Linked DNA regions of Homo sapiens. The protein of the gene in region 1 interacts with the protein of each later gene in a biochemical or structural test. Each region holds a gene or a part of one and is shown on either strand. Other genes may lie near its edges. The genes, in order: SERPINF2, PLG, CFD and KLK13.

Region 1 (7,024 bases):
AACCTCATCCTGTCACCCCTGAGTGTGGCCCTGGCGCTGTCTCACCTGGCACTAGGTACCCTGGCACCACTTGTCCAGACCAAGAGAGCTGGGAGGCCAGTAGGAACTCAGTACTCCAATGGTTCTCCGCGGGCGGTTCCTCCACCAGGGTCACGTGGCTGTTTGGTAAAAATGCAGATTCCTAGGCCGGGGCGGTGGCTCACGCCTGTAATCCCAACACTTTGGGAGGCTGAGGCGGGTGGATCACGAGGTCAGGAGTTCAAGACCAGCCTGGCCAACATGGTGAAACTCTCTCTACTAAAAATACAAAAAATTTAGCTGTGCGTGGTGGTGCGCACCTGTAATTCCAGCTACTCAGGAGGCTGAGGCAGAGAACTGTTTGAACCTGGGAGTTGGAGGTTACAGTGAGCCGAGATGGCGCCACTGCACTCCAGCCTGGGTGACAGAGCAAGATTCCGTCTCAAACAACAACAACAACAAATGCAGATTCCTGGGCCCCCACCCATCTGTCTATGTGAATCAGATCTCAGGGACTGGGCCGGGGAATCTGCTTATTTACAAGTCCTCCTGGTGATTTTTTTTTTTTTTTTGAGACAGAGTCTTGCTCTGTCACCCAGGCTAGAGTGCAGTGGTGTGATCTCAGCTCACTGCAACCTCTGTCTCCCAGGTTCAAGCAATTCTCCTGCCTCAGCCTCCCAAATAGCTGGGATCACAGGCACCAGCCACCATGCACAGCTGATTTTTGTATTTTTAGTAGAGACGGGGTTTCACCATGTTGGCCAGGGTGGTCTCGAACTCTCGACCTAAGGTGATCAACCTGCCTCAGCCTCCCAAAGTGCTGGGATTACAGGCGTGAGCCACCGCGCCCGGCCCCTCCTGGTGATTCTTATGCAAGAGTTTGCTAGCTACACTCTTTCCCACTGTGCTGGAGGGTCTCACTGTGGGAAACGGAAGCCCAGAGAGGGAAGGTAACTTGTGGGGGGTGAGGTCACCCAGCCTGTCAGCCACAGGGGTGAGAGCCACGCAGAACAGATCCGTGGCTGTGGAAGGATGGCGTGTGGTCCCGTGGACGTCCTCGTCACGGGTATCCAGGAGGGACTGGAGTGGGCAGTGGGGGTGAGAAAGGACCCGCAGCCGGGCCTCAGCCTGTGCGGTGCCCTCCAGGTGCTCAGAACCACACGTTGCAGAGGCTGCAACAGGTGCTGCACGCAGGCTCAGGGCCCTGCCTCCCCCATCTGCTGAGCCGCCTCTGCCAGGACCTGGGCCCCGGCGCGTTCCGACTGGCTGCCAGGATGTACCTGCAGAAAGGTAGGCGCTGATGGCAGGGAGCTCCCTCAGTCCTGCCCTGGGTGGAGGAGGGTGAGAGCAAGGGGCTGGGCCTCTGGTAGCGAGTAGGGGCGTGTCTGGCTGTGGAGCCTGGAGCCCTGGGAACAGCTTGTGCTGCCTCCGTGCAGGATTTCCCATCAAAGAAGATTTCCTGGAACAATCCGAACAGCTATTTGGGGCAAAGCCCGTGAGCCTGACGGGAAAGCAGGAAGATGACCTGGCAAACATCAACCAATGGGTGAAGGAGGCCACGGAGGGGAAGATTCAGGAATTCCTCTCTGGGCTGCCGGAAGACACCGTGTTGCTTCTCCTCAACGCCATCCACTTCCAGGGTGCGCTCCTCCTCCTCTCAGATCCCCCACCCTGTAGGCTGAGCTGGGACGTGCAGGCCTTTTTGTTTTTTGAGACAAGTCTCGCTCTGTCACCCAGGGTGGAGCGCAGTGGCGCGATCTCGGCTCCCTGCAACCTCCGCCTCCCGGATTGAAGCGATTCTCCTGGCTCAGCCTCCCCAGTAGCTGGGATTACAGGCATCTGCCACCACACCCAGCTAATTTTTGTATTTTAGTAGAGACAGGGTTTCACCATGTTGGCCAGGCTGGCCTTGAACTCCTGACCTCAGGTGATCCACCCACCTCGGCCTCCCAAAGTGCTGGGATTACAGGCGTGAGCCACCGCGCCCGGCCATGCAGGCTTTGTTCTGAGGGTCTCCTTTCTTCCTCAGTCTGGGCCATGAGGCAGGAGGCTGTCTGGGTGTGGTGGGGATGGGTGCCCAGGAGCCAGATGAGTTGTTCTAGAGTGAATACCCTGGGAACAAATGGTCTGAAAAGATCCAGGAGGGGCTGGGCGCGGTGGCTCACGCCTGTAATCCCAACACTTTGGGAGGCCGAGGCGGGCAGATCATGAGGTCAGGAGATGGAGACCATCCTGGCTAACACGGTGAAACCCCCGTCTCTGCTAAAAATACAAAAAAATTAGCTGGGCGTAGTGGCGGGCACCTGTAGTCCCAGCTACTCGGGAGGCTGAGGCAGGAGAATGGCGTGAGCCCGGGAGGCGGTGGAGCTTGCAGTGAGCGGAGGTCGTGCCACTGCACTCCAGCCTGGGCGACAGAGCGAGACTCCGTCTAAAAAAAAAAAAAAAGATCCAGGAGGAGGTTCCTAGGAGAATTGCAGGGGTTGGGGAAAACACAAGCCCAGATTTCAAAAATGCTACGGGAAAGAGACCTTAGATCAATTGGATGCCAGCTAGCATTCCCTGGGGTCTTGGCCTCCACCGCTGTCTCATCCTTGAATGGATTCTGGGTGGGACAGGCAACGGGCTGGGGGTGCAGAGCCCAAGCTGGTCCCCATCGACGTGACCCCTGCCCTCTGCCCCAAGCTGGTCCCCGTCGACGTGACCCCTGCCCTCTGCTGGGTTTCAGGTTTCTGGAGGAACAAGTTTGACCCGAGCCTTACCCAGAGAGACTCCTTCCACCTGGACGAGCAGTTCACGGTGCCCGTGGAAATGATGCAGGCCCGCACGTACCCGCTGCGCTGGTTCTTGCTGGAGCAGCCTGAGATCCAGGTCACCCTTGGTTGTCCAGCAGGCTGGGCCTGAGGCTGGGAGGTGGGGAAGGGAGTGGACAGGCTGTGGAGCAGGCACAGGGATGGGTGGAGGCTGTCTCGCCTTCCTTGCCTCCACGTCCCCTAGGCAGGCAACTGCAAAAGGTCCCATGATCCCCCATCCTACCTGGCAGGAGGACTGAGGCTCCAGGCTCTTTGAGGTTTAGTAATTCAGTGAAAATATACTGGGCATTTGCTGTGTTCCAGATACTGTTCTAAGCACTAGGGTTTTTGTGGAGCATGAGGGAGGCCAGGTCTCTGCTCTTAGGAAGGAGGATACACAGTGCAACAGTGAATGGACATCAACACAGGAATTCCAGACGCTGGGAAGCGCTGTGGAGGGAAAGCTGAAAAAGAAGGTGATTTTGGCCGGGAGCGGTGGCTCACGCCTGTAATCCCAGCACTTTGGGTGGCCCAGGCAGGTGGATCATAAGGTCAGGAGTTTGAGACCAGCCTGGCCAAGATTTGAAACCCCGTTTCTACTAAAAATACAAAAATTAGCCAGGCGTGGTGGCAGGTGCCTGTAATCCCAGCTACTCCAGAGGCTGAGGCAGGAGAATCACTTGAACCCAGGAGGGAAAGGTTGCAGTGAGCTGTGATTTTGAGGTCAGGAGTTCGAGACCAGCCTGACCAACATAGCAAAGCCCCGTCTCTACTAAAAATACAAAAATTAGCCAGCCATGGTGGCGGGCGCCTGTAATCCCAGATACTCTGGAGGCTGAGGCAGGAGAATCACTTGAACCCGGGAGACGGAGGCTGCAGTGGGCTGAGATCGCACCACTGCACTCCAGCCTGGGAGACAGATTGAGACTCCGACTCAGAAAAAACAAAGGCTGGCCTTGAACTCCTGACCTCAGGTCATCTGCCCACCTCGGCCTCCCTAAGTGCTGGGATTACGGGCATGAGCCACCAGGCCTGGCCTTATTTAGGCATTTTAGAGTGGTAAGGGAGAATTCTGTGAGGAGGGGGCATTGAATTGAGACTCAGGTGACCGTTGTTGATAAGGGTTTATTACAAGGGCCCATGGACTTTGGGGCAGCACAGGGACCACCCCACGGCCATGTAGCCACTCAGGGTCTCTGCAGCCCCCAGCCTGGGAGATTCCACGGGGCGCTCACACAGTGCTCCTTAGAAAGGAGGATCTGATTGGATTGGATTTCTCAGCATCTTGCGTGGAACATTCTGATTGGATAAACTTCTTTTTTTTTTTTTTGAGACAGAGTCTTGCTCTGTCACCCAGGCTGGAGTGCAGTGGCACGATCTCGGCTCACTGCAGCCTCTGCCTCCTGGGTTCAAGCCACTCTCCTGCCTCAACCTCTCGAGTAGCTGGAACTACAGGCATGCACCACCACGCCTGGCTAATTTTGTTCGTTTGTTTGTTTGTTTTTGAGACGGAGTTTCTCTCTATCGCCCAGACTGGAGTGCAGTGGTGCAATCTCGGTTCACTGCAATCTCTACCTCCCGGGTTCAAGGGATTCTCCTGCCTCAGCCTCCCGAGTAGCTTGGACTACAGGCGCCCGCCACCATGCCCAGCTAATTTTTGTATTTTTAGTAGAGACGGGGTTTCACCATATTGGCCAGGATGGTCTCAATCTCCTGACCTCGTGATCCGCCTGCCTCAGCCTCCCAACGTGCTGGGATTACAGGTGTGAGCCACCGTGCCCGGCCAATTTTTGTATTTTTTTTTTTTAGTAGAGACAGGTTTCACCATGTTGGCCAGGCTGATCTCAAACTCCTGACCTCAAGTGATCCGCCCGCCTTGGCCTCCCAAAGTGCTGGGATTATAGGCAGGAGCCACTGCGCCCAGCTCTGATTGGATAAAATTCCGTGCCAGGCTGTCTCAGGTGTGGCCTCTCTTGCTTCTAGCCTAAATGTGGTCCCCTTGGCCTGGGTATTGATCCCCGGGCCAGACAGCTGTGGCTGAGATGGCTGTATTTGTTAGCTTCCCAAGGCAAGTGTGACACAGAGCACAGCCACTTCTGCAGGGAGGAGCCAGAAGCCACTTGGGCAGCCCTCCTGGGAGGGGGCTGTGGGTGAGGCTGGCCCGGGAACGCGTCCTGGCTTCCCTGCAGCTCATTCTGAAAGGCCAGTCTGATCCACCTCCCCGAGGCTCCCCTTTCCTGCTTCCCCTTTCCTCCAGGCTGTGTCCTGCGTACTCTTCCTTCATCCTTCGTCTCCTTTCCTTAGGCCCCGTCAGCCTTTCTTGTCCTCAGGCCCTCTGCAGACAGGCCCAAACAGCCAGAACCCGGGGCTTATCCTCCCACGGGCAGGGGTTCTCCACACGGGTACTCTGCCTGGAACCCAAGGAGTCACAGCTGCAGGAGGCCCTCGAGCCCTGTGGTGTCCACACTGCTTTTGCTGCAGAATCCCTTCAAATCAAATCTTAATGGCTGGGCACGGTGGCTCACGCCTGTAATCCCAGCACTGTGGGAGGCTGAGGCAGGTGGATCACCTGAGGTCTGGAGTTTGAGACCAGCCTGGCCCACATGGTGAAACCCCGTCTCTACTAAAAATACATCAATTGGCCAGGTGAGATGGTGAGCGCCTGTAGTCCCAGCTACTCGGGAGGCTGAGGCAGGAGAATCACTTGAACCCGGGTGGCAGAGGTTGCAGTGAGCCAAGATCATGCCACTGCACTCCAGCCTGGACAATAAGAGTGAAACTCTGTCTTGAAAAAAAAAAAAAAAGAGGCTGGGTGTGGTTTACAGGCTCATGCCTGTAATCCCAGCACTTTGGGAGGCCAAGGCAGGTGGATCACGAGGTCAGGAGATTGAGACCATCCTGGCTAACACGGTGAAACCCCATCTCTTCTAAAAATACAAAAAATTAGCCGGGCGTAGTGGCGGGCACCTGTAATCCCAGCTACTCGGGAGGCTGAGGCAGAAGAATGGCGTGAATCCACGAGGCGGAGGTTGCGGTGAGCCGAGATTGCGCCACTGCACTCCAGCCTGGGCGACAGTGCGAGACTCCAACTCAAAAGAAAAGAAAAAAAAAGAAATCTTAAGCCAAATCACAATATATTTACACAGCTGGCAAAGTCACAAGAGGGAGGTGTGGGAGGGTGGGGCGGGCAGCACTCGGCAGTGGCTCACCCACAGAACCCAGCTGTGGTATGACAGCCAGTGACCCTGTCTGTGGTACATCTGGAGAAGCTGAGACAAAGACAGGCGATTCCTTACGCCGGGTCACACGGCCAGCTGGTAGCCGGTGAAGAGAGAAAACCACCAGGTATTATTGAGCACCGTCTGTGACAGCGGACACTGCTACAATGTTGTTTTTTTTCTTTTTTTGAGACGGATTTTTACTCCTGTCCCCCAGGCTGGAGTGCAGTGGCTTGATCTTGGCTCATGGCAACCTCTGCCTCCCGGGTTCAAGCAATTCTCCTGCCTCAGCCTCCCGAGTTGCTGCGATTACAAGCGCCCGTCACCACAGAAGCCCAGCTCATTTTTGTATTTTTAGTAGAGATGAGGTTTTGCCATGTTGGTCAGGCTGGTCTTGAACTCCTGACCTCAGGTGATCTGCCTGCCTCGGCCTCCCAAAGTGCTAGGATTACAGGCGTGAGCCCCCATGCCCGGCCACACTGCTAGAAACTTTAAAAGCATCTCATTCGGTTACGTGTCCGCCTGCAGTGGGACAGGTAGTATGACTCCACCCCACTGTGAGGAAGTGGAGGAGCAGTGGGGTCAGTCACACGCCTGGCAGGATGGCCAGGAGCCCCATTGTCTGCCTTAGGAGCACCTGCTGGCCCCACCCCCACTTAGCTTCGGGGCTTTCTGTCCTCATGCTCTTCCCTTCCCTTTTCTGTAGGTGGCTCATTTCCCCTTTAAGAACAACATGAGCTTTGTGGTCCTTGTACCCACCCACTTTGAATGGAACGTGTCCCAGGTACTGGCCAACCTGAGTTGGGACACCCTGCACCCACCTCTGGTGTGGGAGAGGCCCACCAAGGTCCGGCTGCCTAAGCTGTATCTGAAACACCAAATGGACCTGGTGGCCACCCTCAGCCAGCTGGGTAAGGAGGAGGGTGCGGGCGAGCCCCCGAGGTCAGGCTGGGCAGGGCGGGTAAGGAGGAAGCGTCTGGCTGGCAGTGGAGCTGAGTC
Region 2 (7,024 bases), on another chromosome or scaffold:
CAGGTTTTATTTCTGGTTCTTCTGTGAACCTATTTGGGATAACCCCCACCCCCCGAGACCTCAGTTCCCTCATAAAGATGAGCCTAGACTACCTCATAAAAATGGCCCAGAGTGTCTCCATGGCCCCCGATAGTCTCTGACTTTGCCATTTGGTTGAATCAGTTTTCATTAACTCACGGGGAATATTTGATCTGCTCATCTCATAGGGATATAGCAAAGGCAATTTGTTGAGTGTTGGGGGAATGGATAAAGGTGAGTAACAAGCACTAAGTTCCTATTTGATAAGCGTCATTACTGAGAACTTAATGCCACCTAACACCAAACTGGGAAAAGTACAAAAAAATGCACTAAAATAAATAATAGGCAAGTTGCAACATTTGAATTTCACGTATCTTCATTTTCATTTTTATATCTTATTTACTCTTTTGCTCCACAATTTGAGTCGAACATGTGATGAGAGTTCTAACCTGATATGCTTACTTCAGTCCCAAACATAGTCATCTTTGATCTTTTCTCAGATTTGGCCTAAAACTCATAGTTTCATTGATTTTTTTTAAACTAGGCATTCTTCTATGTTCTAGGTCTTCAAGAAACCTCCATATCCAAGAAAAAATAGAAAGCAACCATGTTCTACTATGGTGCCAAAAATAGTTGAACATCGACATCAAAAAGATTCTTTCTATCTGCTTATTCACATATTGTGGTTTGAATTAAAAGTGATGAAATTATCCTAAATACAGTTGGCCCTCTGTATCCATGGGTTCCAGATCCACAAATTCAACCAACTGTGGATGGAAAAGACTTGAAAAAGATGACAGAAAATAACAATATGACAATAAAACATAATACAAATAAAAACAATACAGTATAACAACGATTAAATAGCATTTACATTATATTAGGGATTATACAAGAGAAGGTATGTAGGTTATATGCAAATACTGCACCATTTTATATAAGGGACTTGAGAAGCATGGATTTTGGTAGCCACAGGGGTCCTGGAACCAATCCCTCACAGACACAGAGGGACAACTTTACAGTAGATGAACACAAAGATGAAAGGGAATGTCTTACCTAGGTCTGTGGGGAGAAGTGGAACTCCATTTTTGACAGGTGATGCCATTTTTTGTTTTGGACATCGTCCCTCTGTAGTTCTTTCCATTCCCAGTCTTGCACTCTGAGAGATACACTGAAGGGAAGTCCACACAGTGGTCAAAGTCTTTCACAAGACACCACATGAAGGTCTGCACAGCATAGTCACGTTGAGAAAAAGATCTCATGCACCAGACCCCCTGTTTCTGCTTTCTAAAAGATCATCTTTTGCATCTGCAAAAAGGCTGCAGTAAACTGAGCCATTCTTTGATTCATGTATTCAAATGCTACTTATGAGCTCTCTGTGTATCGAGCCCCACCAGGATGCTGGGGACACACGGGGCACAGTGCAGCCAGAGGCTTGGCCGTCATGGAGCTTACATTCTAGTGGAATCAGGCAGGGGGGTTACAGGAAATATTCAAGGAAACAATATAAAATGAGATCACTTAATGATGATACATATTACATACATGATGAGACAGAGTGAGAGAATGGGGAAAGGGCTTTTTAGATGGGGGAATGGCAGGCTTTTCAGAGGCTGAAAGAGATCCAACCCACTTCTATTTCTTCAGGCTCCCAGTGATATGAAAAAGTGCCAAACAGGGCTATAAAATTGTGGTCTACTGTAAATGGTTTGCAGTAAAAGTTCTCAACCAGCTTCCACTCAACCAACTCACCAGTTAGACAACGGGCCCTCTCCTGTGTTTAAAACAGTCCGGTGCCCACCTGGGTCCACATGCAGCTGGCAGGTGTTTGCTAGTGTGCCCACCCATGTCTGTTCCCCCCACGTGAGTTATGTGCTTACAACGAGTCATTTCTTTGCATTTTCCAACTTTCTTACATTTATATTTAATTAAAGATGATCTAAACTGAGAAATGAATGTGAAAAGAAACAAAGCTCTTTTTTGTTTGGTTTTTAACTAAATTAAATGTTTTTAACAAGTTGAAACATGAATCATTTAAAAAATTGCTATCAAATCCACAGAGGGCAATCCACTCATATAGTTGACTATAAAGCTTGAGGAGGAATTCATAAAAATCTAAAGGTTTTACACATTCAGATTGATTAATAAATGTCGAGATATGGTCCACTTCAAAAATAAGGAAAGTAATTATTGTAGATGTTGCACTGGAGCATAGTTTATGCAGGAAATACACCAGAGACCTTCTACTGGTGACCCCATATTCGAAGAAGAAAAGCCTCTGCTCTACGTCAAAAGGTGTCAAGTACACTTGTGTTTTCAATGAAAATATAAAATGTTTAAGGTATATTTACACCATCATTTAAGGTTACCCACTTTAGCCATTTTTTAATTAATTGATCAATCACATGGGGAAAGTGCTCCTAACATACCTACAGCAAACTAATGCTTTTAACCCAATACTGCGTATTATGATTGCAAGTACATCTTCATTGGGACATAGTATTACAGTAGACATAAGACACTCATCAAAAGTGTAAACTCAAGGTACTTTGTGAAAGGGAGGTCTAGGGGTCAAGGAAGATTTGCAAAGGACATGATGATTGAGCTGACACCTAGGAGATAAGAAGGAGCTGGCACAGCAGGACAAAGGTGAAGAGGGTCCCAGGCAGGAGGGTGTGTGCTTGGGGTGGTGAAGGAACAGAAGTAAGGCCAGTGTAGAAAAGTTTAGCAAGCCAAGCAAACAGCAGCTGGGGGTTACTTAAATAATGCTGGGCCCTAGCACATTTGGGAAGTCTTTGGGTCTTATTTTAAGGGCACTAGGAAGGGCTTTAAACAGGGAAGTTACATTTCTTAGAGATCATGTGTACAGCTACAAGTAGCCCCAACCAGTGGTGATAGGGTCTTGGACTTGGTGAAGGCAGTGTGGCTGGTGGCAAGTGGCAGAAGTAAATGTGATCTAACACTGACTGTTCCTGGCAAAACCCTGGCAGGTAAGTTAGTAGCAGGTCAATATCCCACAGCAAAGAAACAAGGACCAAAAAATGACTGACTTTTGACTTTTCACTTCTTTTTTTTTTGTATGTACCCATCAGAGTTTATATAACCTTTTGCTCCCTTCTGTCACTTTGAAAACAAGCAAACTAAGCCTTCAAACTTCAGACTTCAAACTCAACCTACAGTCATTCCCATGTTCCTTCTGGTTAACAATTTACAAATGACATATTTAAATGTTAGCATTTTGTAGAGAGAATCAGGAGAATCAGGGTTTTTTTTTTTTAAAATCTGGTACAATTAGGTGATCCTATTTAGTTTACCGTTTGCTTGCTACTTGTAAGAACTAATAACTTCACCAGATAAAGTTTAGATTTAATCTGCACTTTAATCTCAAGAATTCGAGATAAATAGTGGTAAGGAAGGAAGTACAATGCGTACAGCTAATGAAACCCAGGAAGATGAGTCAATGCATAGAAATAATTCCAACCCAAATAAATACTATTTAAAATGCTACTTAGAGTTTTGCCGTAATACTAGACACAATATGGCAAATCATCCTCAAGAATACAAGAACTAAGGTGTTTCCAGTCCTCTTTAACACCTGGGATGCAGAATGTTTGGAGAGCTAAATTGTTACTATTAACAGTCTTAATACCTGGCTACCAACACAGTAGAGGAAACAGTTTTTAAAGTGTCATGCATCCCTTCAAATATTTATACTTGATGGGATATGCTTAATGGGAGCATACTTGATGGGATATACTTGATGGGAAATGCTTAATGAAACATTTGCACATCTAAAAAGGCATGCAATTTCTATTGAAATCCTGTCTGCCTCTTATTCTAAGCAGTGGGACTATTGACCCACATTTTAAAATAAACTATAGAAAAGGAACTGTAACTTTTACACATTTTTAAAAGACAACATTTCAGAAATCTGAGAAAAATATAGACCATGTCCCCCAAAATGTGAAAAATTTAAGAGTAAAAATAAGATTTGTGTCCCAATCTAAATGTTTCTGAGGATTAAAACACCTCAGTATTTCTGTTTTACAAGGCTTCATCCAGATGTTAGGGCCCAAGGACCATGGTCACCCTGCAGAATAAGAAGCCAAGACCAAAAGGAATGCTTAGACTTCCCATCTCCTTGTTAAATATAAAATAATATTTTAAAAATCTTATTTTCAGGGTCATAGAGGTAGAAGTGATTTTGTAAATCTAATCCTTTCATCTTTTGAACAAAAAAAATTAAATCTAAGAGGTGAAGTAATACACTCAAGCTGACATGGTTAGTTAGTAATCAAATCCTGTCCTAACTCAGAATTCAGTTTTATAACACGATAGTGCCTTCCTCCTCTGGTCTTATAAATTAAAGATAGAATAGAGAAAGAGGAAGAGTGGGAGGATGGGGAGGACAGTAGGAGGAGGAGGAAGAAAATGTACTCACCTTTCTTTTCAAATAAAACTACATCTCTCATCCTAATGATTATGGAGGACTTCCTGTTTTCAGCCATTATCACACATTGTTGCTCTTTACTGTGATATTGGAATGCCCTGCAGAACGAAGCAGGAAATCCAATAAGTATTTTTCTTTATTTAAAGAAAACAAATGTTTATTAATAAGTGAGACATGCTAAAGATCATTGAATATCTTGAGGGACCAGAGAGCTCAGAATTGCTGCCTCTTTCAGTTATTTGGGCATGGCATCGATGAAGTACTGAACAAAATACACCAACGTGGCAGCAAATCTTATCTGCCCTTACCTTCCCTCCCTCATAATTTTCCCTTTCTTCCTGTTTCAACTGCTTTACTTCTTCTTCACTCATCTTCTTAATTTTTGTTTTTGGGTTGGAAAGAAGCAACTCTGGTTGCTTTGAACCCATTCGCCAAGATAGTCCGTCTCCATGACCTCCCAACTCTGATCAGTTCCCCTGAACCTCTGCTCCACATTCCACCCCACCCTGGCCCCTGACCCCTCCCATCTCCATCCCGTGGTCCTGCTATGGGTGCTCAGTCTGGATTCCATAGCTACCTTCCCAAGCCCGTCACCTACACAAAGTCTCTGCTTTAGTCAACTTCATCTCTTAATGGTCCCCCTCAGAAGGTGCAGGGCCGCATCTTCCCCTGCCTTCCTGGTGCTTGTCAAGAGCTCTCTCAACTCCAAACCCAGCTCAGTTCCCACCTCCTCCCTGAGCCTTCTCTAGCTGCCTCAACCTTAGGCACTGTTCTTTCTTCTGGATCTGGGTAGAGCATGCATTGATTATGCCTGTACCTCACTTGGGCTGTCTTTTTTTTTTTTTTAACATTATATCCAGTTTCTTTGACTACACCTTAAATACTAAAGGGCAGGCACTGGATCTTGTAGCTATAAGTCATTGCTCAGATCTATCTAGGACACTTTCATTCACCTGATCCTCAACAAACATTTACTGATGATGATGTTGAAAACTGGAGCTCAGAACAATAACTGCTAATGTTTGTGTCCGGTGTAAAAACAAATAACTTCCTTTGAGGGTATTTTTCTAACAAAGACTCCAATAAACCTTAACAAGAAGCTGTTAGTATGGCTTCACATACTGTGAGCAAATATAGTTCCAAACTCTGGCTCCATAAATTTCTCTTTCCTCTTAAATCATTAATAAATTTGTGAGTAAATTACTTGCCATCTGAATTACAGATTCCTGCGTAGGTGCAACGACAATGGAAATACCTGCAGGTGAATTCTTCGTCCTCCTCACATTTTGCTGCACATTCTTCTATACTTCCTGCTCCCAGCTGCTTCTTAGTGACACTGAACAGTGAAGCCCCCTGGGTATTCACATAGTCATCCAGAGGCTCTCCTTGACCTAGAGGTGGGAGATCCAAGTGGAATAAATGGTCAGTAAATCAATGTCAATGTCTAATTGTCATGACTTCCTTTTAATCTATTTGGTTAGCATTAACCAAATAAAACTTTCTGTTTACTGGAAGTAGAATGGGTAGCTATGAATCAAAATGTTTAGTTAAGAACACACAGTCGGGCATTTGGACATAAATAAAGATGGCAACTAAAGACACTGGGGACTACCAGAGAAGGGAGAGAGGGAGCAAGGCAAGGGCTGAAAAACTACCTATTTAGTAGGTATTTAGCTCACTACCTGGGTGATGGGATCATTTGTACCCCAAAGCTCAGTGTCACGCAATTTAGTTATGTAACACACCTGCACATGTACCCCTGACTCTAAAAGTTGAAATTATAAAACAAAGAAAAACAGTTTCATTAGCAGATTGCAAGATAGTAAAAGATTAACTGGATTGACAAACAGGTTAGAACTATGGAACCACTACTATGTTACCATATTAGTGGATATAAATCCTTAAACAAGAACAAATTTTATGTTTGCTATTGATTGTGCCATGTCATGAGAGAAGAGTAAGGCACCATCAGTGGCAGTTGTGTTACCAAGATTGATGTTGATTTGTTCATCCCTGGGTAGAAATGGAACTTGGAGGCCATTGTTTGATTTCCTACAATATGCGCTTTGGTTCTGGCACTGTCACTTGAACCGGTGGGAAGCATCCTCTGAATGGTCCCTCCTTGAGAAACATAAATTTTGGTGCATAGATGATGGTGGAAATAAACAAGAACTGAACTAAATTATGTTGCCACCTTGGACAAAAATTGGGCAAAACACTGGAGGGTAAGAAGCTCCCCAACAAAGAAGGCCATTTTTGTACTGGGCTTATGACAGTCACACAACACTACTAATTGGGGAGAAGTCAGTTTTTCCAAGGTGTTGACAGGTATCTGGATTTCGGAGGAAATTGTAAAAAAGCAGGACCTGGGACAAATACTGGTCTTGGTTTTTCTTTGAGATCAAATCTGAGACAACGAATCTGTCCGAAAGCTGCTTTCTGCCTGGTCGTGGCAGAGGGTGGCCAAGGGGGCCTCAGCTGTGCTCCCACCACAAGGCTACAGGGTGTCCCCTTGTCCTGAGGCTCTTCCAGACATCTGGCTGAGCTTTGGTAGCT
Region 3 (7,563 bases), on another chromosome or scaffold:
AAGCCCCACCCAATCTTGGCCCCGGCTACCATGCAAGCCTCGGCTGGTCTTAAACCTCTGCCCTGCTCAGGACCCCTTCTCTTCCCTGCCACAGCAGGGATCCCGCTCCGCACCAGCCCTGCCCCTTCAGAGGTTCCCGCCCCTTCCACCTGCCCCGCCCCGTCCCCATGCCCCGCCCCTTCCTCCACGTGCCCGCCCCCTATACCTCCCACCCTTTCTCTGCCACCTGCCCTTTTGCCCGCCCTGACCCTTCTCCAGCCCCACCCTCCCCACAGGTACCGCCCCTTCCTCCATGCCCTGCCCCTCATGCCCCAACCCTCTTCCTGGCCTCGCCCCCTTGCAGTCCCGCTATTACTGGACTCCGCCCCCTCCTCGAGCCCCGCCCCCTATTCCCACCCTAACCCACAGGTCCTTCCACATCCCACCCGTTCCTGCCCTTTCTGCCCGCCCTGACCCTTCTTCAGCCCCACCCTCTCCAGAGGCCCCGTACCTTCTCCAGGCCTCGCCCCCAAGGCCCCACCCTACCCACATGCCCCGCCCCCTCATACAGGCCCCGCCCACGGGCCACCCTCATGCTCCGCCCATCTTCCAGTTCCCGCCCCCTACGCGCCCCGCCCCTTCCCTGGGCCCTGTTCCTACTTGCCCCCCGCTTCGCGCTCCCTCTGCAGGCCCTTCCCGGGGCCTGCAGGCCCCGCGTCTCCTCCCAGGCCTGAAGGCTCACCTTGCAGCTGTCCCGGCGATTGCTCTCCGCGCACATCAAGCGCTCGGTGATGGCGCCGTCGTGGTGCGTGCGCCGGTTGCAGGTGGCGCGGTCCAGCACTGGCAAGAGCACGTGCTGCAGGCTGTCCGGGCGGCGGCCCGCGTGGTTGACTATGCCCCAGCCGGCCACGTCGCAGAGAGTTCCCGGTGCCACGTCGCGGTCCACGCGCTGCCAGGGCAGGGGGCGCACAGCAGGGCCCAGTGTGGCCTTCTCCGACAGCTGAGGGTGGAGGCGGACGTCAGGGTTGGGGTGCGGGGGTGCGAGGCTGGGGAGAATGCCGCTAGGCTCGGGGAGACGGGACGGGGGAGGTGGGCATCAGGGCAGGGGCGTGGGTCTCAGTGCAGCAGGAGAGATTTAGGCTAGACCCTGGGTGGGGGTGCAGGTGGGGATGGGGTGGGTGCGAGGCTCACCAGTGCAGCTGCAAAGGTCGAGGCTGGAACCGGGATGGGGATGCAGGGGGAGCGGGGGGTGGGGGGCTCCCAGTGCAGCCGCAGAGGTCGAGGCTAGACCCGGGGTGAGGGTGCGGGGGTTGTAGGGCGGGGTCCCCATGCAGCAGGAGAGGTCGAGGCTGGACCCGGGGTGAGGGTGCAGGGGGTGGGGGGGCTCCGAGCGCAGCAAGAGAGGTCGAGGCTAGACCCGGGGTGAGGGTGTGGGGGTTGTGGGGCGGGGTCCCCATGCAGCAGGAGAGTTCGAGGCTGGACCCGGGGTGAGGGTGCAGAGGGTGGGGGGGCTCCGAGCGCAGCAAGAGAGGTCGAGGCTAGACCCGGGGTGAGGGTGTGGGGGTTGTGGGGCGGGGTCCCCATGCAGCAGGAGAGGTCGAGGCTGGACCCGGGGCGCGGTGTAGGCGGGGTGGAGTGAGGGTGGGCCGGGGATCCCAGCGCCGCAGGAGGGACTGCGCTACACGGGGCCGACCTGTAGCAGCAGGAGGTCGTGGTCGATGGTGTCGGGCTGGCTGTCCGGGTGGGGCACTGCGCGGAGCACGTCGTACAGGCGCTTGGAGGGCTCCGGCTGCGACAGGGAGTGCGCGCCCAGGAGAACCTGCACCTTCCCGTCGGCCCTGGGGACCGGACGGAGTCCGCGGTCGGTGCCAGCCGACTCCCCCCACCGCACCCGGGCTCTTCCCCCGCGCGGCGCGGGCACTCACGCGTCCTCCAGGCAGTGCGCCGCGCTCAGCACCCACTGCTCCGCCACCAGGACGCCGCCGCACAGGTGCGCGCCGTTCAGCTGCACCGACGCCATGTAGGGCCGCGCGTGCGCCTCGGCCTCTCTGCCGCCCAGGATCCGACCACGGGGCGGCGCCGCTGTGGGTGGGCGGGCGCGTGAGGGCCGCGGGGTGGACTCCTCCCCCGGGCGAGGCTGCCTGACGGGATCCCAGCTCTCACCCCCCAGGCCGCTCCCCGCAAGAATCCCATCTCTGGGCGCGGTGGCTCACGCCTGTAATCCCAGCACTTTGTGAAGCCGCGCGGGGGCGGGGGGGGAGGGGGGGGTGCAGATCATGAGGTCAGGAGTTCAAGACCAGCCTGGCCAATATGGTGAAACCCCGTCTCTACTTTAAAAAAAAATACAAAATTTAGTCGGCGTGGCCTATAATCTCAGCTATTCGGAAGGCTGAGGCAGGAGAATCGCTTGAACCCGGGAGTCGGAGTTTGCAGTGAGCCGAGATCGCACCACTGCACTCCAGCCTGGACGACAGAGCGAGACTCCCTATCAAAAAAAAAAAGAAAGAAAAAAAAGAATCCCGTTTCCGTCTTGGGGCCCCTCAGCGTTGCAAACTCAGATACCCTCGGGCGGGAATGCCCCAGAGTACAGAACCCACAGTGGGCTGGGGACCGGGGGCAGATCCCAGCGCCCTACCCTGGGCGCAGTGCCTTCCAGTTGGACATAAGAGAAATGGGGCTGACCCAGCCAGTGCCTGGGCCAGCCCAGTCAGCCACGCAGATGAAGTTTTCCACGCAGACGTTCAGACTCTGTCTGCAAGAAAAGCTGACTCCAGAAAGTTCCGATTTCCAATCTGAATTTTCTAGAATTTTTCAGCGTTCAGAGCCTTCCATTAGTGAGGAGAGACACCCCCTTCCTGCCCACCTGGAGGGGCTGGAGGACCGTCCGTGTGACGGAAGGGAGCACCACGCCCCTACACAGCCCTGTCCCTCACCCCAGGCCCAGGCCTCCTCACCGCAGGCGGCCGCTCCTAGGAGGACCAGAACTGCCAGGCGCTCCCAGCTGTGCATGGTGAAGCCGCTGTGGCTGAGACACTGACCCAGGCAGGGCCCTGGGGGTGCTTTTATGAGGGTGGAGGGGGCGGGCCGCTCCCCGGGTGGGCAGCGGCCCAGCTGGGGAAAGGGGAACTCGCCCGCCCAGCCTCCGCCCTCCCCGGGACTGGGTTACCTCCTGCCAGACTCACACCAGAGTCGACAAGTCGCTGGGAGACCCTCGGGCCTCTGTGAGCCTGACAGCCTGCTGGCCCTGGTGGGGGGCAGTCCCTCAGATGGGCAGGAGGCAGAGAGGGGGGCTGCACCCACCCCGGCCCCAACTTCACCACACCCAGAGTCCCCCAGGGTGTTTCACAATCCTAGCTGGAGGCCACAGCGTGTAAACAACCCACTTTCTTGTCCTGCTACCCTCCCTTCTTTTCCTCCTCTATATTAGAGAGAAGGTCTGTTGGGGGTAGGAAGGTCACTTGACACCTTTGTCTCTGTCCCTGTGGCCTCTGGGGCTTGACACCCTGACGAATAGAAAGTTGGAAAGGCCAAGGCAGAGGCAGCTGGGAAGACTGGCTACAAGGGACAGGAAAACCCAGACAAACTGGGTGGAGCCTGAATCATGAAAGTTATATGGAAAGTTCAGGGATGTCCGCCTTCAGGTGTGGCTTGATCCAGGTGCCTGAACAATGTCCAGTGTCTGCTTCTGGCTTCTCCTTTCTTCTCTGATGGCTTCTTTCCTCACCAGCCTCCCCTGGTGTGTTTCCAGGGACCCCACACTCAACCCAGTGGCTCAGTGGGCCCCTCCTAAAATTCTTCCTCACTCCAGCCAAGTCTCAAGGGTGCCTTGGGTTGGTGGAGCCTGGATCACACGCCCCCTCCCAAACTGTTCACTGAGGGCAGGTTCTGATGAACAGAGTCAGGGCTGGCCGGGCACAGTGGCTCCCACCTACCATCCCGGCACATTGAGAGACCCAGATAGGAGCATCTCTTGAGCCCAGGAATTCAAGGCCAGCTTGGGGAAGACGGCGAGACCCCATCTCTACAAAAAAATTAAAATAAAATACTTCTCAGAATCTGGGCCATAGGGCCTTTTGTGAGGTGGGGATTTGTGTGTGTTGTTTTTGTTTTATTACAGACAGGGTCTTGCTCTTTCATCCAGGCTCGAGTGCAGCGGTGCAATCATAGCTCACTGCAGCCTCCTCGACCTCCGGGGCTCAAGTGATCCTCCCACCTCAGCCTCCAGAAGTGCTGGGACTGCAGGCCTGCTCATGGTGTAGCTCCATTTTTCACATCTGCCCCACAGGGGCCAGCGGGATTCACGTTGCATTAATCCATGGTGCGGGGACCAGAAGGATGGGGATACCTTGTGGGGAGGACCTCAGACATTGTCCCCAGGGGGAGCAGCACACGAGGTTCCCCCGGCTTTTCTCTTCACCATGGATCATTTCTTTCTTTTCTTTCCTTTTTTTTTTTTTTTTTGAGACGGAGTCTCGCTCTGTCGCCCAGGCTGGAGTGCAGTGGCGCGATCTCAGCTCACTGCAAGCTCCGCCTCCCGGGTTCACACCATTCTCCTGCCTCAGCCTCCGGAGTAGCTGGGACTACAGGCGTCCGCCACCACGCCCGGATAATTTTTTGTATTTTTAGTAGAGATGGGTTTCACCGTGTTAGCCAGGATGGTCTCGATCTCCCGACCTCGTGATCCGCCTGCCTCGGCCTCCCAAAGTGCTGAGATTACAGGTGTGAGCCACCACGCCTAGCCTCATTTCCTTCCTTCCTTTCTCTGTTTTTCTCTTTCTTTCCCTTTCTTTTTCTTTCTTTCTTTCTCTTTCCTTCTTTTTTTCTTTCTTTCTTGCTTTTTTTTTTTTTTTGCGACAGAGTCTTGCTCTGTCGTCCAGGCTGGAGTGCAGTGGCACAATCTCGGCTCACTGCGACCTCCACCTCCCGGGTTCAAGCGATTCTACTGCCTCAGCTTCCCGAGTAGCTGGGATTACACGCATGAGCAACCACACTGGGCTAACTTTTTGTATTTTTAGTAGAGACAGGGTTTTGCCATGTTGGCCAGGCTGGTCTCGAACCTCTGACCTCAGGTGATCCGCCCACCTCGGCCTCCCAAAGTGCTGGGATTACAGGCATGAGCCACCATGCCTGGCCCCCTGTGGATTATTTCATACGCACAGAGAATAGAAAATGATATAACAACAGGGCTGGGCGTGGTGGCTACGCCTGTAATCCCAGCACTTTGGGAGGTCAAGGCGGGCGGATCACGAGTTCAGGAGATCGAGACCATCCTGGCTAACACGGTGAAACCCCGTCTCTACTAAAAATACAAAAAATGAGCCGGGCGTGGTGGCGGGCGCCTGTAGTCCCAGCTACTCGGGAGGCTGAGGCAGGAGAATGGCGTGAACCCGGGAGGCGGAGCTTGCAGTGAGCCGAGATCGCGCCACTGCACTCCAGCCTGGGCGACAGAGCGAGACTCCATCTAAAAACAAAAAAGAAAAAAACACAATGTGGGGAAGTCACTTCTGCTCCATTGCCCTGGCTGTGCTGCCCCCTGGTGGTGGCTTACTCCAGAGATGCCCAAGAGACTCTGGATTCTAGTTTGTTGTTTATTATTATTATTATCATTATTATTTATATTTATTTATTTATTTATTTATTTATTTATTTATTTATTTATTTATTTTTGAGATGGAGTTTCGCTCTTGTTGCCCAGGCTGGAGTGCAATGGAGCGATCTTGGCTCACTGCAACCTCCACCTTCCAGAATTCAGGTGATTCTCCTGCCTCAGGCTTCCCGAGTAGCTGGGATTACAGGCATGCACCACCACGCCCGGCTAATTTTGTATTTTTAGTAGATATGGGGTTTCTCCATGTTGGTCAGGCTGGTCTCGAACTTTAGACCTCAGATGATCCGCCTGCCTGGGCCTCCCAAAGAGCTGGGATTACAGGCACGAGCCACCGCACCGGTATTTTTTTTTTTTTTTTTTTTTTTTGAGACGGAGTCTCTCTGTGTTGCCCAGGCTGGAGTGCAGTGGCGTAATCTCGGCTCACTACAGCCTTCGCCTCGCAGGTTCAAGCGATTCTCCTGCCTCAGCCTCCCACGCGCCACGACGCCAAGCTAATTTTTTTTGTATTTATAGTAGAGATGGGGTTTCACCACGTTGGCAGACTAGTCTTGAACTCCCGACCTCAGGTGATCTGCCAGCCTCGGCCTCCCAAAGTGCTGGGATTGCAGGCGTAAGCCACTGGGCCAGGCTTGGACCATTTTATTTTATTTTATTTTATTTATTTATTTTTTTTTAATGGAGCGGGGGTTTTGCCATGTTGCCCAGGCTGGTCTTGAACTCCTGAGCTCAAGTGATCCGCCTGCCTCAACCTCCCAAAGTGCTGGGATTACAGGTGTGAGCCACCACGCCCGACCTACTGACCATTTTCAACACCCAATCACACAGCCAAGGAGCATCAAACACATTCTACAAAACAGAGAATGTTTATTGTGCCAGATGCTGGAGAGTGTGGGTGTGGGCAGCTGAGGTGACCCGGGCAGCCCTTCTCAGTGGGTCCTGCTGGCCGGGTCCGGGTCCCGGGGGTGGGGACAGGGGTTGTCCTCGGAGCGTTGGATGATAGAGTCGATCCAGTTTACAAACTGTGCCACCGGGGCAAAGGCATCGGGGTAGAGCCCTGAGGCGCAGCCTCCCCGGACGAAGGAGGCAATTCCGTGGATTAGCCCGTTGCAGACCAAGGGGCTGCCGGAGTCCCCCTGTGGAGGCAGACAAGGTGGGGAAGCTGGACTGCGAGGCCCTGCCCACCTGCCCGCCGCCTGTCAGGGTTGGGAAGTCCCTCCTAGGGTCTAGCCACGGTGCCTGTTGCTGCAGTCCGGGCTGGGAGCGGGTGGGGAGCAGAGGGACACCCAGGGCACGTACGAAACAGACGCCGGCCTGCCGGCCCCTCACGAGAGTGCAGACGTTGCTGCGACGGCAGAGGGACGTCACCACCGTCACGTTGAGCTCCTGCAGGACGCTGGCGATCCCACGGTTCCTGCCCAGAAGGCCCCAGCCCATGGCCAGGCACTGCACCCCGTTGCCCAGGCGGCGTCCCTGAGCCGGCAGCTGGGCCACCTGCACGTTGGCGTTGATGGTGGCCGACCCGTTGAGCTGTGGCGGTGGGGACAGATCGTCAGCGCGTCACACGGGGCAGTGATGATGACCCTCCCCTCTCCGGGCCTCAGTTTCCCCATCTCAGGTTCCACTGTGGTTCTGGGATCCTGCAGGGCAGGATACCCACCCCACACTCTGCTCCCCAAGGCAAGCCTCGGTTTCCCCATCTGTAGAGTGGGAGCCGTCACCAAGGCTCAGGGCGTTGGAGGTTGTCCCTGGATGTGGCTTGAGTGCAGGAAGCAGTAGGTGCTCAGTTAACAAAAAAACTACAGCCGGGCGCGGTGGCTCATGCTTGTAAGCCCAGCACTTTGGGAGGGCGAGGCAGGAGGATCACTTGAGGCCAGGCATTCAAGACCAGCCTGGGCAATGTGGCAAAGCCCCATGTCTACAAAAATAATAAAAAAAAATTGCCAGGTGCGGTGGCTCACGCCTATAATCCCAGCATT
Region 4 (6,991 bases), on another chromosome or scaffold:
CTACAGACTTGTGCCACCATGTCCAGCTAATTTTTTAAACTTTTTTGTAGAGATGGGATCTTGCTATGTTGTCCAGGCTGGTCTTGAACTCCTGGTGTCAAGCGATCCTCCCACCTTGGCCTCCCAGTGTTGGTATTACAGGCATGAGCTACCACATATGGCCCTTGTTTCATTTCTTGCTATGGCTTGCAGCACCACCTGACAGCCTATTTCTTTATTCATTGTTATGGAGACTTCTTGAAAAGAATGTAAGTTCTACAAGGGCAGAAGTTTTTATCTGTTTAACTCATTGGTTATCACTTGTCTCTGCAACAGTGCCTGGCTCTTGATAGGTACAAATATTTGTTGAGTAAATAAACTATATTTAACAACACCCAGGAGAGTGCTTGCACATAGTCAACACTGAAGAAATGTCTCCTGAGGAAAATAAATCAGTGCAACACTTTTTTTGGACACTCTGCAAATTCGAAGGGCTGTTATTAACATTCTAAGGTAATATTTTATGGGAACCATGCAAATAATAATAGTGATAAATGCTTGACATTTATTCTTGTAATAATGTTACAATTAAAAAAAATTATGAACCCATTTTACAGATGAGAAAGCACAGAGACTGTGAGTTTTATAACTTGTCCAAAGCAAGGATTTGCACTACATTTTAGGGTCATGCACAAAGATGTAACAGCAAGGGACACTGACCAAGGATGTTCATGGAGGGGATACAAGACGGAATATTTGGTAGACAATAAAGTTCAGGCAAGAAGACCCTTTGGTATACTGAACCCTATAACTCTAGAGACTAGGGTGCCATTGATTCAGAGAGGGAATGTTGGCAGAGGTGGGGTATTGGAAGAATGTGGGATGTAGGTTGGGTTGGGACTTCTGAGACACCCATAACAGTGTGAGAATGAAATATTCTGAGGATCCAATGTTAGCTGTGGTGAGTCACAGAGGTACACAGAATGTTGTCAGGGCAGAAGATTGTGGGCATAAGAGAATATTTTCAGGATGAACTATCATGGGAGTCTAGAGCCTTCTTGAGTGCAAAAAATAGAAGGTCTAGGATACTGGCATTGAATAAATACTTGAAGAGTTAGAGGATGTTGTCAAGGATGGTCCATTTATAGGACATATATTGTTGAGATGGGCTGATGGAAATATTTAAGAATGTGCCACAGACAGAACGTTCAGGTGGTGATCTGGGCTCATAGAAGCCACACTGATGAAGTTGAGAGACCTGGGCCATTGTCTGGGTTGGGACATTCAGGTTGTTGAGATGTTTCAGGGATGCAACATCTGGGAGACTGCAAGCCTGGCAGTGCCTGAATGCTTCTGAAACATGGAATGTTAGCTGAGATTGAGCATTTTTCAGGACATGGATCACTGGTTCAAATGGAACACTGGGAATAAGGAGCAGAGAAGGGCTAAGCAGACCATGTGAGGAAGTCATGGTGACAGGATGGAAGCCGGTACATTTCTCAACTTTTATTGTGGGCCCTTCAACCATTTTTGCTGCTGGGTTTCATATTTTCGGATTGTTTCACGGATCCACAGGACGTATCTTGAGACACGGGTGTAGACACCAGGCCGGTCAGGTTGCCCACATGGGAAGTCTCCCCAGGAGACGATGCCATACAGTGTTCTGTTACAGACCAGGGGGCCCCCAGAGTCACCCTGAGTTGGGGAAAGAAAGAGAGAGAGAGGTGGGTCCTTGCTGGGGCTAAACAAGGCAGGGACAGGGAGGTGTGGGGAGAGAGTGAAAGATGGAGAGAGACACACACAGAGAAGGAGACTCAGAGAGGCAGAGTCAGACACACACAGTGTGAGAGAAAGCAATGAAGACAGTGAGAAACAGACAAGAAGACAAACACAGAGGGACAGACAGCAAGAGACAGAAATAGGGACAGAAAGACAGAGATAGGCCCAGAGAAAGAGAGACACAGAGAAATTTCTGTGTTTTTCTCTGTTCCTCAGTTTCATTAAAATGGTAACAACTTACTTCATACCCATTTTTGTTTCCCTGGTACTAAATCACCCCCTGCCCCACACCAGCTGACCCTGCTCCTATTTAAGGCTCATTTGTGTCTCTCACTATTGAGTGAACCCATTCATATCTGGGCAGGGTATGCAACACACGTGTAAGTCTATTTCTCTTCCTGGGCCCAAGGCAGACATCACTAATCGATCAAGGCACATATCATTAATATAGTATCATACTCTTTCTCACTGAATCCAATCTCAACTTCTTTATTGATGAAGGCTATTTTTTGCTCATGTAGTATCCATTTCCTCTTATTTTTAAAAAATTAAACATTCATTTTTAAATTTTTATTTATTTATTTATTAGAGACAGTGTCTTGCTCTATTTATTTCTTTTTGTTTTAGAGACAGGGCCTTGCTCTATCACCCAGGCTGGAGTGCAGTGGCATGATCATACCTCACTGCAGCCTTGAACTCCTGGGTTCAAATAGTCCTTCTGCCTCAGCCTCCCGAGTAACTAGGACTGCAGTTGTACTCCACCACACCTGGCTAATTTAAAAACTTTTTTTTCTTTTTGTAGAGACAGAGTCTCACTATGTTGCCCAGGCTGGTCTCAAACTCCTGGGCTCAAGTAATCCTCTCACCTCAGCCTCCCAAAGTGCTGGGATTACAGGCATGAACTACTGTACTTGGCCATTTCCCCTTATTTTGGTAACAGCCTCTCCTGATTTTTTCATTTGGGGAACTGCCCTTCTCCACTTCCAATCCATGCAGTTTGTCCCTGCCCCTCTCCAGCACCCACAGTTAACTATGTGACTCAGGCTTGGCCCATCAGAGAATCCCACAGCTCTGGTGGAGTGATGGCTCAAGACACATGACTTAGGTCAGCCTAGTGAGAATCATGCTTAAGACTTTTGTGTGAACTATTGGAAAAGAGAGGTTCTCTTTCTAATAGGGTTGCCTAGAGGGTAGGATGTAAGCTCAAAGCTGCTGGGGCCATCTTGTCATGGGAAGAATCTAACCGAGAATGAAGCCAAAACAGAATAAAGAAGAGCTGAGAGTTAAAAGAAAGACAGAATTCCAAACACACAATTTGCATACCTGGATCCATCTGTGCCTAAAGCCAGACAACCTGGATTTTCAGTTACAAAAGCCTGCATTTTGTTTAAGCCAGTTTGAGTTGGTTGTCTATCACTCACAAGTGAAAGAATACCAACCTTTATGCATCTCAACACAGGGATCTTGGCAGCCACTCAGTCAAAGCTGGGGCTTATGATGAATTATTCCTGCCATCCCTGGGTACCCCTTTTTGTCTTGACCTCCTATGTGAGGGGACATTGTATCTTATAAAGATTGGTTCCCCTAAGGCTGGAAACAAAGCTTTTTCCCCAGCATCTGTCACTTCCATTCTGGCTTTCTATCCTGTCCAAGGCACCCACCAGCCTCCCGGCCTCACCTCACAGGAGTCTTTGCCACCCTCTTTTGTGCCGGCACACAACATGTTGTCAGTGATCTTTCCTGGGTAGACTTGACGACACTCCTCATCTGAGCGAAGTTGGATGTTGGCACATTGTAGAGTTTTGGGGTAATTCACTGGGGAGAAGAAAGAGAAGGTCTAAGGTATCCGACCTGGATAGGATATGGGATGAAGGTGAAATAGGCGAGTTGAATGGGTAAAGAGTAGATAGAAAATTGAGATGGGAAGAGAAAGATGGGAGAAGAGATGAGCACCTATCTGGGTAAAGCAACGGAAGTGACAGAAATATGGAGGGACATGGGAGAGAGGCGAAGGGAGAGATGAGGAGAAAAGTGGAGGGAAGGACAAGGAGGGAAGGGACAAGAGAATGGAAGGTTGATAAGGAGAGTGGTGGAGCCAGCGGTGGGGAGAGAAAGTTGGAGAGAGGGAGTTGGAATAGGGAGATGGTCAGAAATAGAGAATTAAAGATGGGAAAAGCAGGAACAGGGATGGGAAGAGTTACGGGAGAGTTGGATAGAATGGTAGGAAGAGAGACAGGGCATGTTGAGGAGAAAGATACAAACATGAGGCTGGGAGAGAGTCAGGGATTGCTAGGGAGATGCAAAGGGCTCTTGTCGGTATATACATCAACTTTATATTCACATATATAATGTATTATACTTACTAAGTAATGATATAGAATTAATTATTACATTGAATTATTAGACATTTCATTAATAACCATATTTAATATATTAAACATTTTATAAATTATAGAAATATAAACATTTTATATGTATGATTTATATATTATAAATGATAAAATTCATTTACAGTATATAAATATATAAATGTATACATTTATAAAATACATTTATAATATATAATTTAAATATAGATTATATATAATATATACATTATGCAGAAATACATATTTAAAATACATAATTGATAAATTTTATAATTTATAAAATACATTTAATTTGTATACTTTTTGTATAATATATAATTATATTACTATATAATACATAATATACATCATATAATATATTCATATATTAGATCTATTTATATTTCTATATATTCATGAATTTATATACTCATATTTTTATATATTCATGAATTTATATTTATATAAAGGATACAGCTAACTTTAAATATATATATTTATTTACTTATTTATATTTTTATATATAAAGGAACCTACCTCAGACCTTCCCTCCCATCTCTGCCCCTGTTTCCCCAGCCACTCCTATGGGGCCTCAGGCCACCTGTGTGGGTGCATACCCTGGGGGCTGGTGGTGGTGCCCCAGCCAGACACCCGACAGGTGGTGCCAGGGGTTAGGCGGTTGTTGTGGGAAAGGGGCAGGGTTTGGATGTAGCCTGTGAGCTGGACCGGGGACTGCAGCTCCAGAAGCATGATGTCATGGTCGTGGTTCAGGTGGGTGGGGCTTCTCCGGTATTCAGGGTGGGGGATAGAGTGGACAACTTCCCTCACCTGCTCACCAGCTTCCACACGCCCTAGGGCGTGCTTGCCTAGGTAAACTTTGAGCCCCCTGTGGGTGCAGAAAGAAGGTGGTTAGGAAAGAAGATGAGCCCATTTCCATCCCCATCCCAGCCCCAACCTCTTCCCATCCCCAACCTAACTTCTTCTCCATCCTACCTTCCTCATCTCCAAATACATCTCCCCCATCCTCAACTTCAATCCCATCCAAATCCCCTACTTTGATTCTATTCCCATACCCAATCCCCATATCTCAACCCCAAACCTCATTCTCACTCCCATGTCCATCCCCAACCCTAACTCCAACTCCATCCTCAAATCCAACTCTACCCCATCCACAATCCCAGTCCCATTCTCATCCCTACCCCATGCTCCCCCGGCCCCCACATACTCCTTTAGACAGTGTGCGGCAGTGAGGACCCATTTGGGGTGGACCAGGACTCCCCCACAGAGTAGCCGCCCTTGCACTAGTAGGGCAGCCTGCCAGGGCTGAGAGTGGGGGAAGCAGGTGTAGCCACCTGGGAGAAACCCACTGGTCCCATTGGTGTTGAGAACCTTGGAAGACTCCTGGGAGACACCTGGTAAAGAAGAGAGATTGTTAGAAAACTGGGATCCAGGGGGCAGAGGAGCCCTGGGGTTGTGGTTTCTGGGTTTGGGGTAAGGGTCGGATTATTGCCCTGGGTGACCAGGAACTGAAGATGAATTTGCCGACCTATGGCAGTTGCTATTCTTGACCAAGTGGAGATGAATTAGGGCAAAGGGGTGACATTATTTTCTCAGGAAGTACCAAATCCTCCACTGGGGGTTAACAGAAGAGTTCACAAAATGAGGATGTTGCTGATAGGTAAGCAGGAGCCTGACTTTCTCTCCACATGCATTTTTTATATCATTCTACCAGAAGATGGATTTCAGGAGGTAGAAGTGAGACTGACCTACACATCCACCTAGGCAATATCTATCCATCAATCTATCCAATCATCCATCCCCCATTCATCCTATTGATTTGTCCATCCGTCTACTCATCCATCTATCCATTCATCCATTTAGGTAGTCATCTAACCATCTATCCATCCATCCATCCATCCATCCATCCAACCATCCATCCACTCATCTGTCCCTCCATCCACTGGTCCATTTATTCATCCATCCATCCATCCATCCATCCATCCATCCATCCATCCATCCATCCAATCCAACCATCCATCCATCCATCTATCCATATATCCATCCATGCATCCATCCAATCATCTTTCCACCCATCTCTCTATCCTTTCACTGCATATATACTGGTTGCCTCCATGGCTTTAAATACCAGCTATAGGCTAATCATCTCCAGCCCTGAACTCTTCTTTAAGCTCAAAACTCAAACACTGTTGATTTGGATGCCTTACAGGCATCTTAAGCTTTGTATTCCCAACTTGATTCTTCTCAATCAAAACTGTTCGCTCCAGTATTTCCCACCTCAGTGCTCAGCCCCAAACCTGGGAGTCATCTTTGCTTCTCTTCTTTCCTTCATCACTCACAACCAGTTCCTATTGGTTTTATCTCCCAAATATCCAGTTATCTCCACACTTCTGCCACCATCTTGGTCCATGCCCCATCTTCTGTAGCCCAAATGACTACAACATTAACCTAAATCCTTCCACTTTTACATCCCTCCGATCCAGTCTTCTCAAAGTAGGCTGAGGACTCTTCAAACAAAGAAAGTCAGATGTTGTTCCCAGGCTCAACTTTCTTTAAAATAAAATCCAAAAAGCCTTCCCAAGGTGTGCAGGACTCTGTGCTGTCTGGCCCTTGCCAGCCTCTTTGACCCCATCTCCAACCTCTTTCTTCTGACTTCCTCTAGTCCAGCCTCATGGGCCTGTTCTTCAAACACACCAGGCATTTAAAGAAAAGAAGAATTTAAATCATCTTGGATGCCCCCATACTAGACATTTTATACTTGCTATTTCCTCTCTCTGCACAGTCCTTTCTCCAGACCTATGTTGTTTAATATGGTAGCCACTAGCTACATGTGGCTATTTAAATTTAAACTAATTAAAATGAAGTAA

What was found.
Region 2: the proteins of SERPINF2 (region 1) and PLG form a complex in vitro, tested with the Homo sapiens proteins (2 studies listed by BioGRID, with this or other methods).
Region 3: the proteins of SERPINF2 (region 1) and CFD form a complex in vitro, tested with the Homo sapiens proteins (one study listed by BioGRID).
Region 4: the proteins of SERPINF2 (region 1) and KLK13 form a complex in vitro, tested with the Homo sapiens proteins (one study listed by BioGRID).

What each region holds. Positions count from the first base shown.
Region 1 is NC_000017.11:1,745,855-1,752,878, forward strand, and holds part of SERPINF2 (alpha-2-antiplasmin isoform a precursor), read left to right. Parts: coding exon 1-55; intron 56-1,164; coding exon 1,165-1,308; intron 1,309-1,454; coding exon 1,455-1,658; intron 1,659-2,743; coding exon 2,744-2,886; intron 2,887-6,731; coding exon 6,732-6,936; intron 6,937-7,024.
Region 2 is NC_000006.12:160,705,242-160,712,265, reverse strand, and holds part of PLG (plasminogen isoform 1 precursor), read right to left. Parts: intron 5,860-7,024; coding exon 5,724-5,859; intron 4,567-5,723; coding exon 4,460-4,566; intron 1,190-4,459; coding exon 1,075-1,189; coding exon of another isoform or gene 1,071-1,074; exon of another isoform or gene 394-1,070; intron 1-393. UniProt on the Homo sapiens protein: Plasmin dissolves the fibrin of blood clots and acts as a proteolytic factor in a variety of other processes including embryonic development, tissue remodeling, tumor invasion, and inflammation. In ovulation, weakens the walls of the Graafian follicle.
Region 3 is NC_000019.10:855,115-862,677, reverse strand, and holds the start of CFD (complement factor D isoform 1 preproprotein), read right to left. Parts: upstream 3,015-7,563; 5' UTR 2,989-3,014; coding exon 2,934-2,988; coding exon of another isoform or gene 2,913-2,933; intron 2,062-2,912; coding exon 1,905-2,061; intron 1,818-1,904; coding exon 1,673-1,817; intron 980-1,672; coding exon 722-979; intron 1-721. Other genes in the region: ELANE (neutrophil elastase preproprotein), read right to left, coding at 6,514-6,720, 6,884-7,114.
Region 4 is NC_000019.10:51,055,102-51,062,092, forward strand, and holds the end of KLK13 (kallikrein-13 isoform 1 precursor), read right to left. Parts: intron 5,519-6,991; coding exon 5,332-5,518; intron 4,993-5,331; coding exon 4,724-4,992; coding exon of another isoform or gene 4,689-4,723; exon of another isoform or gene 4,644-4,688; intron 3,574-4,643; coding exon 3,437-3,573; intron 1,675-3,436; coding exon 1,486-1,674; 3' UTR 525-1,485; downstream 1-524.